Regions from separate parts of the Homo sapiens genome. Here region 2 is linked to region 1. A link means that fine-mapping ties the variant in region 1 to the expression of a gene that starts in the linked region. Tissue or cell type: whole blood. Region 1 holds a variant in brackets; the other region holds the start of a gene. All regions are shown on one strand. Distances are from middle to middle.

The links. PIP is the estimated chance that this variant, and not a neighbour inherited with it, causes the effect.
Region 2: it holds the start of CLTCL1, and the variant in region 1 is fine-mapped to the expression of CLTCL1 in whole blood (TOPMed, PIP 0.98).

Annotation. Positions count from the first base shown.
Region 1 is chr22:19,509,813-19,517,812 of GRCh38, forward strand. It overlaps CDC45 (cell division cycle 45), which reads left to right. Exons shown (of 19, transcript NM_003504.5): 14 at 4,937-5,075; 15 at 5,153-5,236; 16 at 6,715-6,833; 17 at 7,005-7,081. Among named protein-coding and RNA genes, the nearest start is that of CLDN5, 11 kb to the right of the region's middle. RefSeq lists enhancers at 4,671-5,171, 5,172-5,672. The variant G/A (reference allele first, on the strand shown) is at 4,391.
Region 2 is chr22:19,287,044-19,295,043 of GRCh38, forward strand. It overlaps CLTCL1 (clathrin heavy chain like 1), which reads right to left and starts at 4,676. Exons shown (of 33, transcript NM_007098.4): 1 at 4,557-4,676. The coding sequence starts at 4,598. It overlaps LOC105372859 (a long non-coding RNA gene), which reads left to right and starts at 4,904. Exons shown (of 6, transcript XR_938002.3): 1 at 4,904-5,287. RefSeq lists an enhancer at 3,865-4,378 and silencers at 4,489-4,673, 4,555-4,794.

The DNA.
Region 1 (8,000 bases):
GATGCATATGTATATATGGGGGCCTGCTTTCTGGGATTTCCTGGTTCTGCTCCCAAGCACACTTTTTTTTCCACTGCTTTATTGAGATACAATTTGCATGCCATACAATTCACCCATTTAAAATGTACAATGTGATGGCTTTTATTTATTTTATTGTTATTTTTTTAGAGACAGGGTCTCGCTCTGTTGCCCAGGGTGGAATGCAATGGCATGATCATAGCTCACAGCAGCCTTGACCTCCCAGTCTCAAGCAATCTTCCTACCTCAGCCTCTTGAGTAGCTGGGACAACAGGTGCATGCCACCACGCCTTGCTAATTTTAAAAATTTTTGTAAAGATGTATCACTATGTGGCCCAGACTGGTCTCAAATTCCTAGGCTCAAGCAATCCTTTCACCTCAGCCTCCCAAAGTGCTGGGAGGAACAGGCATGAGCCACTGTGCCCAGCCTGCAATGACTTTTAGTAGGTTGCAGTTAGGTTTTGCAAGGTTGTGCAGCAATCACCACTATCTAATTTTAGAGCATTTTTGTTGCCCCAGAGAGATCCTCCCAGCCTCTGGCAACCACCAGTCTCCCTTTTGTCTTTATGAATTGGCTGTTCTGAGCATTTCATACAAATGGGATCATATAAGATATGGTTCTTTGTGACCGGGTTCTTCACTTAGCATCATATTTGCAAGGCTCATCTATATTGTAGGATGTATCGGGATTATATGTCTTTTCCCTCGTCCGCCACCTGAGACAGAGTCTCACTCTCGCTCAGGCTGTAGTCCAGTGGCACGCTCTCGGCTCACTGCAACCTTCGCCTCCTGGGTTCAAGCAATTCTCCTGCCTCAGCCTACCGAGTAGCTGGGATTACAAACGCATGCCACCAAGCCTGGCTAATTTTTGTAGTTTTAATAGAGACGGGGTTTCACCGTGTTGTTCAGGCTGGTCTTGAACTCCTGACCTCTTGATCCACCTGCCTCGGCCTCCCAAAGTGCTGGGATTACAGGCATCAGCCACCATGCCCGGCCAGTGTCTTTTTATTATAAATAATATTCCATTGGATGGATATATTCTATTTCATTTATCCATTCATAAGTTGATGGGCATGTGGTTTGTTTCCACCTATTGACAATTATGACTAATGCTGCTGTGAACTTGCATGTACAAGTTTTTGTGTAGTCATGTCTTTGTTTCTTTTGGTTATATACCTACATGTGGAAATGCTGGGTGACATGGTAACACTAGGTTTCAAGGAACTGCCAGATTTTTGAGGAACTGCCAGACTTTTCCACAGCAGCTGCACCATTTTACATTCCCACCAGGAGGGAGGGTTTCAATTTCTTCACATCCTCACCGACACTTGTTATTGTCCATCTTTTGGATTACATTCATCCTAGTGAGTATGAAGTGGTATCTCGTTATGGTTTTGATTTGCATTTTACTGATGACTAATAGTGTTGAGCATCTTCTCATGTGCTTATTGGTCATTTGTGTATCTTGTTAGGAGAATTGTCTATTCAAGTCCTTTGTCTTTTTTTTTTTTTTTTTTTGAGACAGGGTGTCACTCTGTTGCTCAAGCTGGAGTGCAGTGGTGCAGTCATGGCTCACTGCAGCCTCAAACTCCTTGGCTCAAGCCATCCTCCCACCTCAGCCTCCTGAATAGGTGGGATTACAGGCATGAGCTACCACACCTGCTAATTTTTAAATTTTTAGTAGAGATGAGATCTTACCATGTTGCTCAGGCTGGTCTCAAACTCCTGGGCTCAAGCAGTCTTCCAGCCTTGGCCTCCCAAAGCACTGGGATTATAGGTATGAACCACCGTGCCCAGCCTAAAACTTTTATATATTCTACATACAAATCCCTTATCAGATAAGTAATTTGCAAGTATTTTCTCCCATTCTGTAGGCTGACTTTTCACTTTGGCAGTGTCCTGTGAAGTATAAGATTTGTTAATTTTGATGACATTTAAGTTACCTACTTTTTCTTTTGTTTCTTGTGCTTTTGGTGTCATATCTAAGAAACCATTGCCTAACCCAAGGTCATGAAGATTTCACATTATTTTTTCTACTAACACTTTAATAGTTTTAGCCCTTACATTAGGAGTATGATTCACTGGAGGTTTTTTTTTTTTTTTTTTTTGAGACAGGGTCTTACTCTGTCACTTAAGCTGGCATGCAGTGGCATGATTTCCACTCACTGCAACCTCTGCCTCCCAGGTAGCTGGGACTACAGGCATGTGCCACTGCACCTGGCTAATTTTTGTATTTTTTGTAGAGACATGTTGGTCAGGCTGGGCCCCTTACTCTTTACTATAGTCTCCTTACACTTCAGCAAGGCCCCTTGCTCTTTACCATGCCCCCTTATACTTTACCAGGCTCCCTTGCTGTTTAACAGGACCCCTTGCTCATTACCAGGACTCCTTGCACTCCAGGGAGGCTCCTTAAACTTTCCCTTGGCCCACTGCACTCACCTGCTCTTGCATAGGGCAAAACTCTCAGTTTGGGCCGCTGCTCTCCAGTTGCCTGGAGTTTTAAGTCTTCTTAGGTCTCACTACCTCTTGGCTTTCTCTCGCACTGATGTAGATAGTATACCTGTCTGGCTGTTCATGGTCTCTTTTTACCTGCTTACACTTTGGGGTTTGAAGTGTTCCCTTGTTCTCTTAATTTGTTGCAAATGTGGGTCCTAGGTTTTTGGTTTTGCAATCTAGTTGCTCTACTTTTATCTAGAAATTTGGGAAAATCCAAAAACTATTTTACCACTGTTGCTGCCATCATCCCAGCATTGATGGGTAGGCTTTAGACATTGTCTACCAACTTCCTGCTATGACAAAGGAGCATTTATCCCACTCTTGTCCACCTTCCCTCCTGTTGGTACAGTTTTGCCACTATTTTTAACTTCTTTGTAACTTTAACATATTTATGTCTTCTTTCATCACTAGTATCTCGTCTCCCTACTTTGTAAGAAAAGGATATTTAAAACACTCTTAGTCCATTTTGTGTTGCTATAAAGGAATACCTGAGGCTGAGTAATTTATAAAGAGAAAAGGTTTATTTGCCTCATAATTCTGATGGCTGGAATGCTCAAGATTGGGCATCTGCATCTGGTGAGGGCCTCAGGCTGCTTCCACTCATGGCAGAAGGGGAGCTGGTGGGTGCAGAGACCATGTGGCAATGGAGGAAGGAAGAGAGAGGAGGAAGGTACTAGGCTCTTTTTAACAACCGTCACGGGAACTAATAGAGTAAGAACTCACTTACACCCCCTAGCCCCAGGGAGAGCATTCATCTATTCATGAGGGGTCTGCACCCATGACCCAACACTTCCCACTAGACCCCACCTCGAAGATCTTGGATCAGATTTCAACATGAGGTTTTGAGGGGACAAATGTCCAAGGTGTAGAAACAGCCTTACTTTGCTCTTCAGTGCTGCTCAGTACTTTCTGAAATTTGTGCTTTTACGTTTTCAAGACTGATAACAATCTTGGGTTAGAGAAAAAGATATAAATTGTCTTATCTTTGGTTACAGGTTGATTTTAAAAGTTGAAAGTAAACAAATAGTTTTACTTTATTGTGCTAATAAACTATTCCAGAGACAATCATGTGTAGTAATAGATTACTATCTGGCACGGCTCTTTGTTTTTCCTGCTGTTTTTAATTGCCTCCTTTATCACATCCATTTTTTTCTCCTCCAAACTCCTTCCAGCTGTTTTTCTGTGAGCCCCTTTTTGCTGGAGAGTCTGGGGTTCTGTCTTCCCACCACAGCCTGGACCTACAGCTCTCTAGACCTGCTTTCCACTGTCCCCATGGATGTCCAAATCTTGGCTGTGCCTCTTAGTTTAGTCCAATGTTTCTTGGGATCTTCATCTTTGTTTCATTTACTCCCTCATTAAATTAGAGCACAGTTCTTAAGTAACATTCAAAGAAAGGGCGCATGTGAGATAAACTTTCTGAGTTCTTATATATCTGACAATATCTTTATTTTACTATTTCTTTACTATTCCCCCCACAGAAAACATCCGTGTTTTTTATTCTTGCTTTTCAGGCTTCCTGGAATGACGATGCTCTGTCTTATTTTTTTGCCTTACATTTTCCATAGCTTTGTCTTGTTATCTATGTTGAGGAAGTTTTTCTTGACTCCAGACTTGGAGTGGATGTTTTATCTTTTGCAACTGTTTTAATTTCCATCAACATTTCCTAGTTTTTAACTCTTCCTTTTTCATAGCATCCTGTTCTTGGTTTAGGAATGTAAGAGTTGCACACATCTCTCTGAAGATACTAATTAGAGTTCAGTTTAACTTTCTTTAGTTCTCCAAATTATCTGTTTCTTCAGGGTTATTTTTTTAGGCCATAGGCATTTCTCAAATGGTCTGATGTCTTTCATATTCAAGAACGGGATTGTGGACCCTT[G/A]GCTGGGCCATGGGTATCTGGGCACAGCTCACTGGTCATAAGACATCGTTTCACCTTAGCAGGCAGGAGCCAACTGTGACACTTTGGGACTCCCCACTGTAGGGCCCAGAGGCTTTGCTTGAGGATTCTACTTATTCACAGATGGTACATTTCATATACTCAGAGGGGAGCCTCCCTTTTTGTGGGGAAGAGTAAAAATCTATCTGTTGGGTTTGAGGGGATCCCTTGTCCAACCTCCAGCCCTTGCCCAAGCCTCCCCTGTGTCAGAGTCCTCCTGGGCCTTCAGGATCTTCCCTTTGTTGGCTTTTAGTTTCCTGTCTTCTGATACTTGCACCCGCTCCACCTCTCATTTGCATTACTGTGGGTTTATACATTTTAAAAAATTCTTTCCTTTCATGTGAAAGACAACTCAGGAGGGAAAGAAGATAAATTCTTACCCCCAAACCTCTTCCTGAACCAGGAACCAAGCAAACTATTTGTGACTTTGGTATTTTACCAAGAGTTCCTGACAAGCACCACCAAAGCCATGTGTCTGCCCTGTTACAGGAGTAACCTGGACAAGCTGTACCATGGCCTGGAACTCGCCAAGAAGCAGCTGCGAGCCACCCAGCAGACCATTGCCAGCTGCCTTTGCACCAACCTCGTCATCTCCCAGGGGCCTTTCCTGTACTGCTCTCTCATGGAGGTCAGGCTTCCCACAGAGCACAGGCGCCTGGTCACAGCACCAGTGGCTTCGTCTGACCATCTGTCTCGCCTCCGCAGGGCACTCCAGATGTCATGCTGTTCTCTAGGCCGGCATCCCTAAGCCTGCTCAGCAAACACCTGCTCAAGTCCTTTGTGTGTTCGGTGAGGGGCCAGGCGGGTGCTGTGGGTACAGGAGGGCAGGTGCTTGGAGAGCTCCCTGGATGGGGAGTTAGATGCTGGCCTTGGGGTGCCTGTGGCTGTTGACCAGCTGCAAGGTCTAGGCACATCCATTACTTTTTCTGAGCTGTCTTTTTCTCAGCTGACCCCTAGGAACCTTCCAGTTCTCTCAAGCTCTGATTCATCACTGGCTGTCTAAGTCACTCAGACAAGTAGGGAGGGGCCCTTGCAGAGTGAACAGGGCTGGGGCTTGTGTCCTATTGTTGCAGGTCAGGGAAAGCGGGATGGTTGTAGCACCGACTGGCTTCCCAGCAACAGCTTGTCCACTAAGCTGATTTCCTGTGCCTGGCTTTGTCTTCTGTGTGGCCTAACCCCCTCTTTGCGTTGGCGTGGAACACACTCCTAACTTGGCTGGCTTTAGGGCAGGGGTCCTCACCTAGCCGACATGGGGCTCCTCCCAGATGTGACATGTCAATAATTGAAGTCCTCCTCTGCTTCGAGGATGAGAGTTTATGCCGGGGGCTATTTCAAACAAAATGTGCTAACAGGAAGTTGAACTTTTCTTTTGCCGCTGAACTAACCAGTAAAATGATGACAGATGACATGTGTTCTATCAACCAGGTAATGTCAAAGATAAACTAGGGACAGAGCATGGGCCTTGACGTCCTCTAGGCTGTGTTCAAAGATGAGCCTCCTCATTTGCCAGTTGTGTGACGTGAGGTAGATGATCTGACCTGATCCTCAGTTTCCTCATCCGTGAAATGGGTGAACACATACCCACTTTACAGGATCCATTCATTTACCAGACATGTATTGAACATCCACCACCTGCCCGGCCCTGTTGTGGAGTGACTGCCCATCCTGGTGCACATCCTGGGACACCCCTCAGTCCTAGACACACCAGGAATACTGGTCACCTGGGCTGTAGGGTGTGGGTGCAGCAGGCACAGCAGAGAAGGAAACCCTAAACCTTTATCCTGAAGGAGCGTGCCGGCGGGGGGGACGAGGAGTGGCAGCTGCGGTTAAGATGAGGGGATGTGCTGCCAGGGGATGGAGCAGGATGAGGCGGGGTGGGCTGGGGCCTCCTGGAGAAGGTGGCAGCTGCTGCAGGACCTGAAGGAGGTGAGGGAGAGGATAGCAGGGCAGGCTCCTTGCAACAAACAGCCAAGGGGCAGTGGGGCTAGGCTGGTAGACAAGGAGGCTCGGGGACACAGCATCACAGCCACAGTACCATGCTGTGGGTACGGGAGGGCAGGTGTTTGGAGAGCTCCCTGGACTGGGAGTTAGACACTGGCCTTGGGCATCTAACTTGGGGTGGCTGGGTGGGGACCAAGGCGTCTCCTGGTGACAGCGTCCCTGGAGGCTTTGGGGAGTGGAGTGACTGGGCGCTGTTGGGCTCTGGGCTCTGAGTGTTGAGCTGGGGCCCACCATACCCTGACGGAGGGTGCTCTCCGACTCCATAGACAAAGAACCGGCGCTGCAAACTGCTGCCCCTGGTGATGGCTGCCCCCCTGAGCATGGAGCATGGCACAGTGACCGTGGTGGGCATCCCCCCAGAGACCGACAGCTCGGACAGGAAGAAGTGAGCAGCTTCCACTCGTCCTGGGACTGGAGGGTCGGGGGTGTTGGGGTTATCAGCTTATTAGCCCTGCTGAGTAGAGTGGTATTTGCCTCTAGTGTCTGTCCTGGGGCGGGGGGTGGGAAGGGTCCATTGCAGGCCGCCTGGCCCCCGACATGTCTTGTGTGTCAGCAGCTTTTTTGGGAGGGCGTTTGAGAAGGCAGCGGAAAGCACCAGCTCCCGGATGCTGCACAACCATTTTGACCTCTCAGGTGAGAGTCTCCTGCCACTCTGCCACACTTTCCCACCTGACCCTTTGAGGCTATTGCAGGCCCTGGAACCAAGCAAGTTGGCATGGCTGGAGGAGCCTGGCCAGCAGCCCTCTTGACCTTCCAGATCTGGCCCTGGGACAGGCTACTCCTGGTGGCTCAGGGAGCTCTGGTGAACCTCAGGCCCCTGAGAGGGAAAAAGTGTTTTCCAGGGAATGACTGGCCTGGCTGTGGCCTTACAGCGGCCTTACAGCCAGTGCTAAGGATCACTTTCCCAGCAAGCCTAGGGGACTGGCCACCAGGGCCCGTGTGCCCCGATCTCACCTGTCAGGGTTGGGTTGTTTCTGTTTCATGGGGTGAGGGAACAGCAGGGCCCGTGATGACCCAGGACACCAACCCTTGCTGCGCCAGCCACCTCTCCACAGGCCGGGGTGTGTGTCGTGATAGGTGCTACCTGTGAGATGGCTGGGACACCGGCCCCACCTGTGTGTCAGATGAGCCCAGAATGGATAGGCCTGCCTGCCCACTGCTTCCCCAGCACCAGCACGGAACATGGTTCACATTCGGCTGTGTTGGCGTTCTTATTATTGTTGACAGGTTTTAAAGTAAAACAGACGTATTGATATTTCACCCCGGGTTAGTTTGCTAAAGCTGCCATAACAAAGTGCCACAGACAGGGTGGCTTCAACCACGTGTCTCCTCCCAGTCCTAGAGGCGAGAAGGCCCAGGTCAAGGTGGGGCAGGGCTGGCTTCTCCTCAGGCCTCTCTCCTTGGCTCACACAGATGACCACCTTCTCACTGTGTCCTCACGTGGTCTTTCCTCTGCATACCTCCTTGGTGTCTGTGTCCAAACCGTTTCATCTTCCAAGGACACCAGACAGATTGGATTAGAGCCCACCCTAACAACCACATTTGAACTTAA
Region 2 (8,000 bases), 220 kb before region 1:
CTGGGGGGAATTACTTAGGGCTCAAGAAAATTTTTATGTCACCAAACTATTCAGCCATTCCTCTTCTGAATCAAGATGTCTTAAGTGCTCAGCCCATCCTCAGATATTACAAACAGCAATACCCTTCCAACTCTCACATTTGAATATTTCTAAAAAGTTCAAATGGTAGCTCCCTGAGCTCACAATCCAGCAGAGAAAATGAACAGCTACAGTACCCTGGGAAGAGTGTCATTATAAGAGGAACCCCAAAGAGGCACAGAGGAAGAACTCCTAACTGACAAATCAGGGAGAGCTTCCAGAGACAGCGTCATTTCCACAGATACCAGAAGGCTCAGTAGGAGTCAGTGAGTAAAGAGGGGTGAGAGGAGAATGTGTTTTGGCAAGGACACAAAGGGAGCGGCAGCAGAGTTGAGCAGGTGTTGGGCTGGGAAGAACAGGAAAGAGCACGTGGGGATCAGTCTTTTCATGCCAGAGGAAACACGAAACCACTCCCTGAAGGACTTTAAGCAGATGCTCATCCTTGGAGATCATGTTGCCTGTGTGCTGGAGAATGGATCACAGGAGGGCAAGACTAGAAGTAGAAGGACAAAGCTAGCATGACCATCAAGGTGGGGAGGGATGGCATAGTTTAGGGAAACGGTAGTCATGATGACAGTGGCAGAACGATGCCAAAAGTAAACAGGAGAAAGGGACAACAGGATGGGGAAAACACATCCCAGGCTCCTGGCTGGACACTGGACAAGATACACATCTGGGGAGAAAGGGAACCCCATTTATGAACACTGTGTTTGAGGAACCTGCTGACCATTTCCTGGCCTTCTTCAGTAGGCAGCTGTCACAATGGCAGCAACAGCTCACAAGGACACAGTGCTTTACAGTAGTCCCTTCTTATCCGTGGTTTTTTTCACACTGTTACCTATAGTCTGAAAATATTAAATGTAAGACCCCAGAAATAAACAATTCATAAGTTTTAAATTGCATACCATTCTGCAGAGTGATGAAATCTTGCACCAGCCCACCCAGGACGTGAATTATCCCTCCTCTGCCCAGCATATCCACGCTGTAGACATTGCCAGCCCATTAGTCACTTAGTAGCGGTCAGTTACCAGGTTGACTGTTGCAGCATCACAGAGTTTGTGTTCAAGTAACCCTTAATTTACTTAATAATGGCCCCAAAGTCCAACAGTAGTGATGCTGGCATATTGTTATTATTGTTCTGTTTTATTATTAGTTATCATTGTTAATCTCTTACTGTGCTTAACATAAATTCAGCTTTATCATACATATGTATGCATAGGGAAAAAAAGTGTATAAAGGGTTCAGAACAATCTGCAGTTTCAGGCATCCTCTGGGGGTCTTAGAACATATTCCCCATGGGTAAATCGGGACTACTGTATTATGTAACAGTTATTGTTTAATGCTTTACATTTATTAACTCAAAAACCTCACAACTACCTTGTGAGATAAGAAGTATACCTTTTATCCTTATTTTATAGATGAAGATATAGAAGCACAAAAAAGCTACAAACATTGCCCTAAATCACACAGCCAGTAAGTGCCTGAGTCCACATTCAGTGCCTTCAGTTTGGCCTCAGTCTGTGCTCTTAACCAGGACCTGCTACTGCCTCACACACACACAGCAGTGAAACTGCGAAAACACTCGGATGGCTTGGGAACATCAAGCTTATGGGAATACATAACATCACCAGCAGCATGTCCTGAATGAAAAAGCAGAGGGGCTCAAGACAGATTCCAAGCTCATGCACAAGAGCCGCCCATGGGGCAGTGGGTGTGGGCAGAGAGGAAGGAGAAACCCTGGGAAACTGTGGAACCAAAAACAGTAGAGAAAGGACCCTCAGGAGGCAGTAAAGTGCAGCATCAAATGCGGCTGGACATCACAGAAGATGCGTGTGGTGTGATGGGCTTTATCTCACCTAGCTCATCGCATCTTATTTTTTGAGACGGAGTCTCGGTCTGTTACCCAGGCTGGAGAGTAGTGACATGATTTTGGCTCACTGCAACCTCTGCCTCCCGGGTTCAAGAGATTCTCCCGCCTCAGCCTCCTGACTAGCTGGGACTACAGGTGCGTACCAACACGCCCGGCTAATACTGTATTTTTAGTAGAGACGAGGTTTCACCATGTTGGCCAGGCTGGTCTCGAACTCCTGATCTCAGGTGATCCACCCGCCTCGGCCTCCCAAAGTGGTGGGATTACAGGTGTGAGCCACCATGCTCGGCCTGATTTTATTTTTTACAGCAAAGATTAGCCAACTGCAGCCTGCTTTTGTATGGCTAAACTAAAAGTCTTTTTCATATTTTTAGAAGGTTAAAAAATGTAAGAATATGGGACAGAGACAGAATGTGGCCCTTACAAAAAAGCCTGCAGGATGGCTTGTAACCTTGGCAAAAACAGATTCAGGGGAAAAAATGGGGACAAAAGCCAGACTGCAGGTTACTGTGGAACATAAAAATAATGAAGCACTAAAGCAGCTCTTTCATGACATCCAGCTATGAGACAAGAGCTTCGTGGGGACAAGAGCGGGGGAAGAAGTTTGCTGGTTGTACAGATGGAAGAGAGGTGAGCATTGCCCAACACAAACAGGAAGAAACAACAAGACAGAAGGATGAAAATACAGGAAAGGGAGGCTATGACTGAACGAGGCTCCCTTATAGGGAAGAAGGATACCAGATCCAGAACATAGACAAGAAAGGACACCTACTTTTGAGGTAACAGGAAGGCAGGAAAGGGTGGCTGCAGACAAACATCTAAGTCTGCAGCCATATAGGTGAGAAACATCCCAGTTATGGCTTCAGTTTTCTCCAAGTCATCTGCTGGTTGCAAGGCAGGAGTGGCAGGATCAGGGATTTAAGGAACAGGCTGAAGTCTCGAAATGTCTGTAGTGAAGGCAGTGTGTGCTGACTCAGTGTTTGCTCTACAGAATGCACAGCAGCCTCAAAGACCCAGTCAGTGTTAGAGACCACAAACCAGACTTGCATTCACGTGGCTGCCCACCACAAGCCACAAGCATTTTCCAGATAATGGAACATATCAACTCTGATGGACATTACAAATCCTGATGGACATTAGAAACTCTGATGGACACCTAAAATATCTTGTTGCTTTCTTGCCCTTTGAAAAGAACATATTTAGATAGTGGTTAAGCACAGGCATTGGAATCAGACCTGGGTTAGAACTCAAGCTTTGTCACTTACTAGCCATGTAACTTTTGCTGAAGGAATTAGAATATTAACCTCAGTGACCCATGGTAGAAAACAGGATATCACTATCTGCCTCAGTTATCATGAGGATTAAATTAAACCAGATTTATAAAATACAGTAGTCTAGTGAGTGGCAAGAGAAACGGCTCAGTAAATGATAACTACATCATCATCATTATTATGAGCAGCAGCAGTATTTTGCTACCTCAACATGACTGGTGCTGGCTTAGCTTAGTGGCAGAATGAAGCCCGGACAGATGTCAGGGCACTCCCACCTCCATACAACTTCCACTGTGTCACTAACCAAGTGACCCTGGCAGGATCCCCTGGATATCAAGTTTCCAGTCTGCAGAATGAGGGGACTGGACTGCACTACACAGTTCCCAAGGCTTTTCCCGTCTGCATCTAGGGCTAACAGTGCTCTGCACTGTGAAAATAGGAACTTTCAAGCAAGCACGTTCCTCGATGTACTACTTTGTGGTCAAAAAGACTTGAGTCTGAATCCTGTTCTTATTGAATGAAGATGAGTTCTTTAACACTTTTGAGACTCGGTTTCCTCATCTAGAAAAGAGTAAGCGAATCGCAACGAATGGTAGTGTGATGATTTAACACAGAGCACTCAGGGAGGAGCCGCTGGCTATCCCTCCTCTGCCGCACCTCCCAGGGTAAACGTGGGGACCAGCACCGCTCCCGGGCAGACCCGCGAGCGGCCCGCACGACGCCCGACCTGAGCCTTTGCTCAAAGCAGGGGGCCAGTCCTTATGTTTCTGAACACAAACAAATGGAGAACAAACTGGGACCTTATTAAAAAGGCAGGCTTTGGGGGTGTTACTGCATTGAAAAGCCCTATTTAGGCTTGGCCCTGAGAAATTTTTCTCTTGGGTCACGCATGTTCACGGTCCTCCCAGGCGAAGCCGCCCTGGGGACGAAAACCGATCACAGAGGCAAACTCAGGGGCGAATAAGGACCGCAGGACGCCAAGGAGGGGCGTGGAGCTGTGGGATCCGCGCGGCCCTTGGGTTGCCCTGCCTGCAGCGGGAATTTGTGTGCCTCCTCGCGGGCACTGAGCGGGGCGTCCCAGGGGGCGTTGGCTTCCACCCCCACCATTCCCCAGCCGGCCCCGCCGGTAACGGGCTTCGGCGACGGCACCCAAGCGGGTCCTCAGGAGCGGCCGCCGCGCCCGGGACGCCGCAGCCCCAGCCCAGGTGGGAGGTCGGAAATCGGCGCGGCCAGCTGGGCAGCGGCTCAGCGGGGCTGGGGGCGCGGGGTCAAGCCTGGCAGTCCGGCCCGGCGGAGGCGCGGCTGACAGGGCAGCCCCCCAGCCCGCCGGGCCTCACCTGGAAGTGCTCCTGAAAGCGAACAGGGAGGATCTGCGCCATGGCTGGTGCGGGACCTCGGCGGCGGCGGCGGCAGCGGCAGGAATGAACGCCGACCCCTCGCGCGGGCTGACCGGTGGCGACGGCGCAGGCGCAGTGCCCCGAGCTCCCGGTCCTGGCCCCCGCCCTCCTCCCTGACCGCGCCCCGGCCCGCACCCCCTTTCCCCGCCCCTTCCCCCGCCCCTGCCCCGCCCCTGCCCCGCCTCTGCCCCGCCCCTGCCCCCGCCCCTGCCCCCGCCCCTGCCCCCGCCTCTGCCCCGTCCCGCCTGCGCGGATCCCTCCGCCCGCTCCGAGGGTCCGCGGAAAGTAGTCCCGCGCGCCCTCTGCCCTGACGCGGTGTGTGCCAGCTACCCGAGTGAAAGGTTTTCGGGGGATTAATCCTGATGGGGTCTGCGGCGGCCCTTGCCCAGCGCCTTCCACATGTGGAGCGGGCCAGTGGTGCTAGTTCTGCCGCCAACTCTGGACGGTTGAGTTCAGGGCCACTTTTTACTCAGGCACGGATGTGACAGAAAGATGGAAAAGGGTCTTGGAAGAACCACATGTGCCGTATAACGAACGACCTTTTGGTCTGAGGAGGACCGTGTATATGACGGTGGTCCCATAACATGATAACGGAGCTGGAAACTTCCTGTCCTCTGGTGAGGGCTTAGCTAAGGACATTTCCTCTCCTGTATTTGGAGATACACGTACAGGTATGTCATTACCGTGCCAGGGGAATAACGCACCTCACACGCGGTGCGGGTTTGCGGCCTAGCAGCAGCGGACCGCATCAGCTGCCTAGTTGTGTAGTGGCTGTGCCATCTGAGTTTGTGTAAGTTACCTTGTGATGATCCCACAACCGAGACGCATGTCTCAGAATGCATGGATGCATGGGACGCGTGACTGTACGTGTTACAGACGTGTTTCGGCGTGAGGCTCGGCCCCTGCTCCTTTAGGAAACACCTTTCCTGGCTCATGCGGTTTCTAGAGAACACTGTGTCGGAATATCAATGTAGAGAGTCAGCGAAGGTCATCTAGCAGCAGATGACCAGCCCCAGGCCAGTGAGGATCACCCAGAGTGCCCGTGGCTGCACGACAGTAGTAGCAGGTGGAAGCTGGAGCCCACACCTGGTTTGCCCAGCAGCCAGTTGTTTTTCCGAGGCACCGTTGGCTGATGTTTTGCATACAGATGATTCAGCTGCATAAAAGATGTCTGTCAGGAAAGGGAAGCCCTTGGCATTCAGCACAGGCACTCCCTACGGGGTAATCGATAGCCGTCTCTGCTGCTTCCCATGTTGCTCACTGGTAATTTTAAGAAATGAACGGCCCACCTTGAATAAGACAAGGATGGTGCAATTATTTGCGCAATGGCTTGACCATCTAGTAGCCAAAAATATGTTAAGGAATAGAACAGACTGTTCACTTTCAAATTAAATCTCTTTTCCAGTATTAGCCAAGACCTCTGCAGCCCGCCCTTTCTAAAATCCATGTGGCCTCATCCGCTAAATATAGAGCTGGGTTTTGCTGTGGTTAGTACTACATTTCCCAAATCTCTTTATTTTGGCAATGATGCCTGTGACTCCAAGTACCCTTTACCCCAAACATTATATAAATTTTTTAGTAATTAATACCATCACTCCCTAAATCACCTTCCCCAGGGCTTTTTGGGGATTAAAACTAAAATTTTATACCCTAAAAGAAAGAATTTAAGAAAATCATAGTTAAGCAAAGTGACAGGATTGTTAATACGTCGGGACCTCAAGTGGGGATTAAGTTTCAACATTAATTTTAGAGGAGACACAAATCTTTCTGTCTCTTCAAACCATAGAAGAGACAGAAAGCACAACAGTTATTTGAATAGACAGAAGTGAATATAAGTGATAGTTGTAGTTAACAGGAAATAAAGTTGTTAATATACTTGTAAAAAAATTAAATGTTCTGACTTGAAAGGGACTTTAATATTCTCACCACTTGTAGGTAACTTGCTAAGTAACCCTAAAAAAACCTTTCAATTCTTTTTTTTTTTTTTTTTTTTTTGAGACAAGAGTCTCGCTCTGTCGCCCAGGCTGGTGTGCAGTGGCACGATCTCTGCTCACTGCAACCTCTGCCTCTCAGGTTCCAGCCATTCTCCTGCCTCAGCCTCCCAAGTAGCTGGGACTACAGGCGCACGCCACCGCACCTGGCTAATTTTTCATTTTTAGTAGAGACAGGGTCTCACCATGTTGACCAGGCTGGTCTCAAACTCCTGGCCTCAGGTGATCCATCCACCTCGGCCTTCCAAAGTGCTGGGATTACAGGTGTGAGCCACCGCGCCTGGCCCGGGATTAAGTTTCAACATTAATTTTGAAGGGGACACAAACCTTCAAACCACAGAAGAGAGAGAAAGTGCATCAGTTATTTAAACAAAGGGAACTGAATATAAACAATAGTTAACAGGAAGTAAATTTAAAATAATAAAAAGAAAATCCCAAGATATGGAGTTACAAACATAGGACACAGCTACCACCCCTAGAGCTCAAAGATGAAAGAGAAGCTGGAATTATTACAGCTTAAAGGAAGGGCTTGCAGAGCTGGAATTCAGATCTCTGAGGAGGTGTGTTGACCAGCTGGGGCTGGGGTCATTGAGCCCAGAGGAGAGATCCCATGGGGATGGGACTCAGACCTCTGAGGAGGGTCCCTACGGGACTTAGACACACACTATGGATGAGGGGTGGCTGTGGAGCTGGGAGTAAGCCCTCTAAAGAGGGCACTGGGAGACTCTCACCCAGATCTCTAAGGAGAAGGCATACTGAGGCTGGTTCTGCAAGTCTTGGAAAAACTTAAACTGGATTCAGCTTCTGTGGGAAGAATGTGCTGCTGCCTTGTTGAAGAAGCCTAGCTGGGGTGATGCTCACAGGAAGTGGCCCTGTGGTCTCCCTCTATCAACCTATCAGCTTAGTCTAATAGGGAATATTAGATCAGATCTTCTTTATTTGCCAATGAGAAATATGTTTTTTAGAGTCTCAGCCCTGGCATCAGAAGCAGTGTCTAGAGGTGGGAAGGGAGAATAGAGCTGAAAGACATTATTTAATAACTGGTACAAGAAACGACATGTTATAGCTAAATTCCAATTCCCATGGGACTTTCCTATAGGTGGAATTGAAAAGTCTGTGGAGGCGTATAATCGCAGCGCTTTGGGAGGCTGAGGTAGGAGGATTGCTTGAGCCCAGGAGTTCAAGACCAGCCTGGTCAACCCCATCTCTTCAAAAAAATTTAAAAATTAACAGGGCATGGTGATGCATGTCTATAGGCCTAGTTGGGAGGCTGCAACAGGAGGATCACTTGAGCCCATGAGCTCAAGGTTACAGTAAGCTATGATCGTACCACTATACTCCAGCCTGGGCAACAGAGAAAGACCCTGTCTTTAAAAAAGAAAAAGTCACTGGA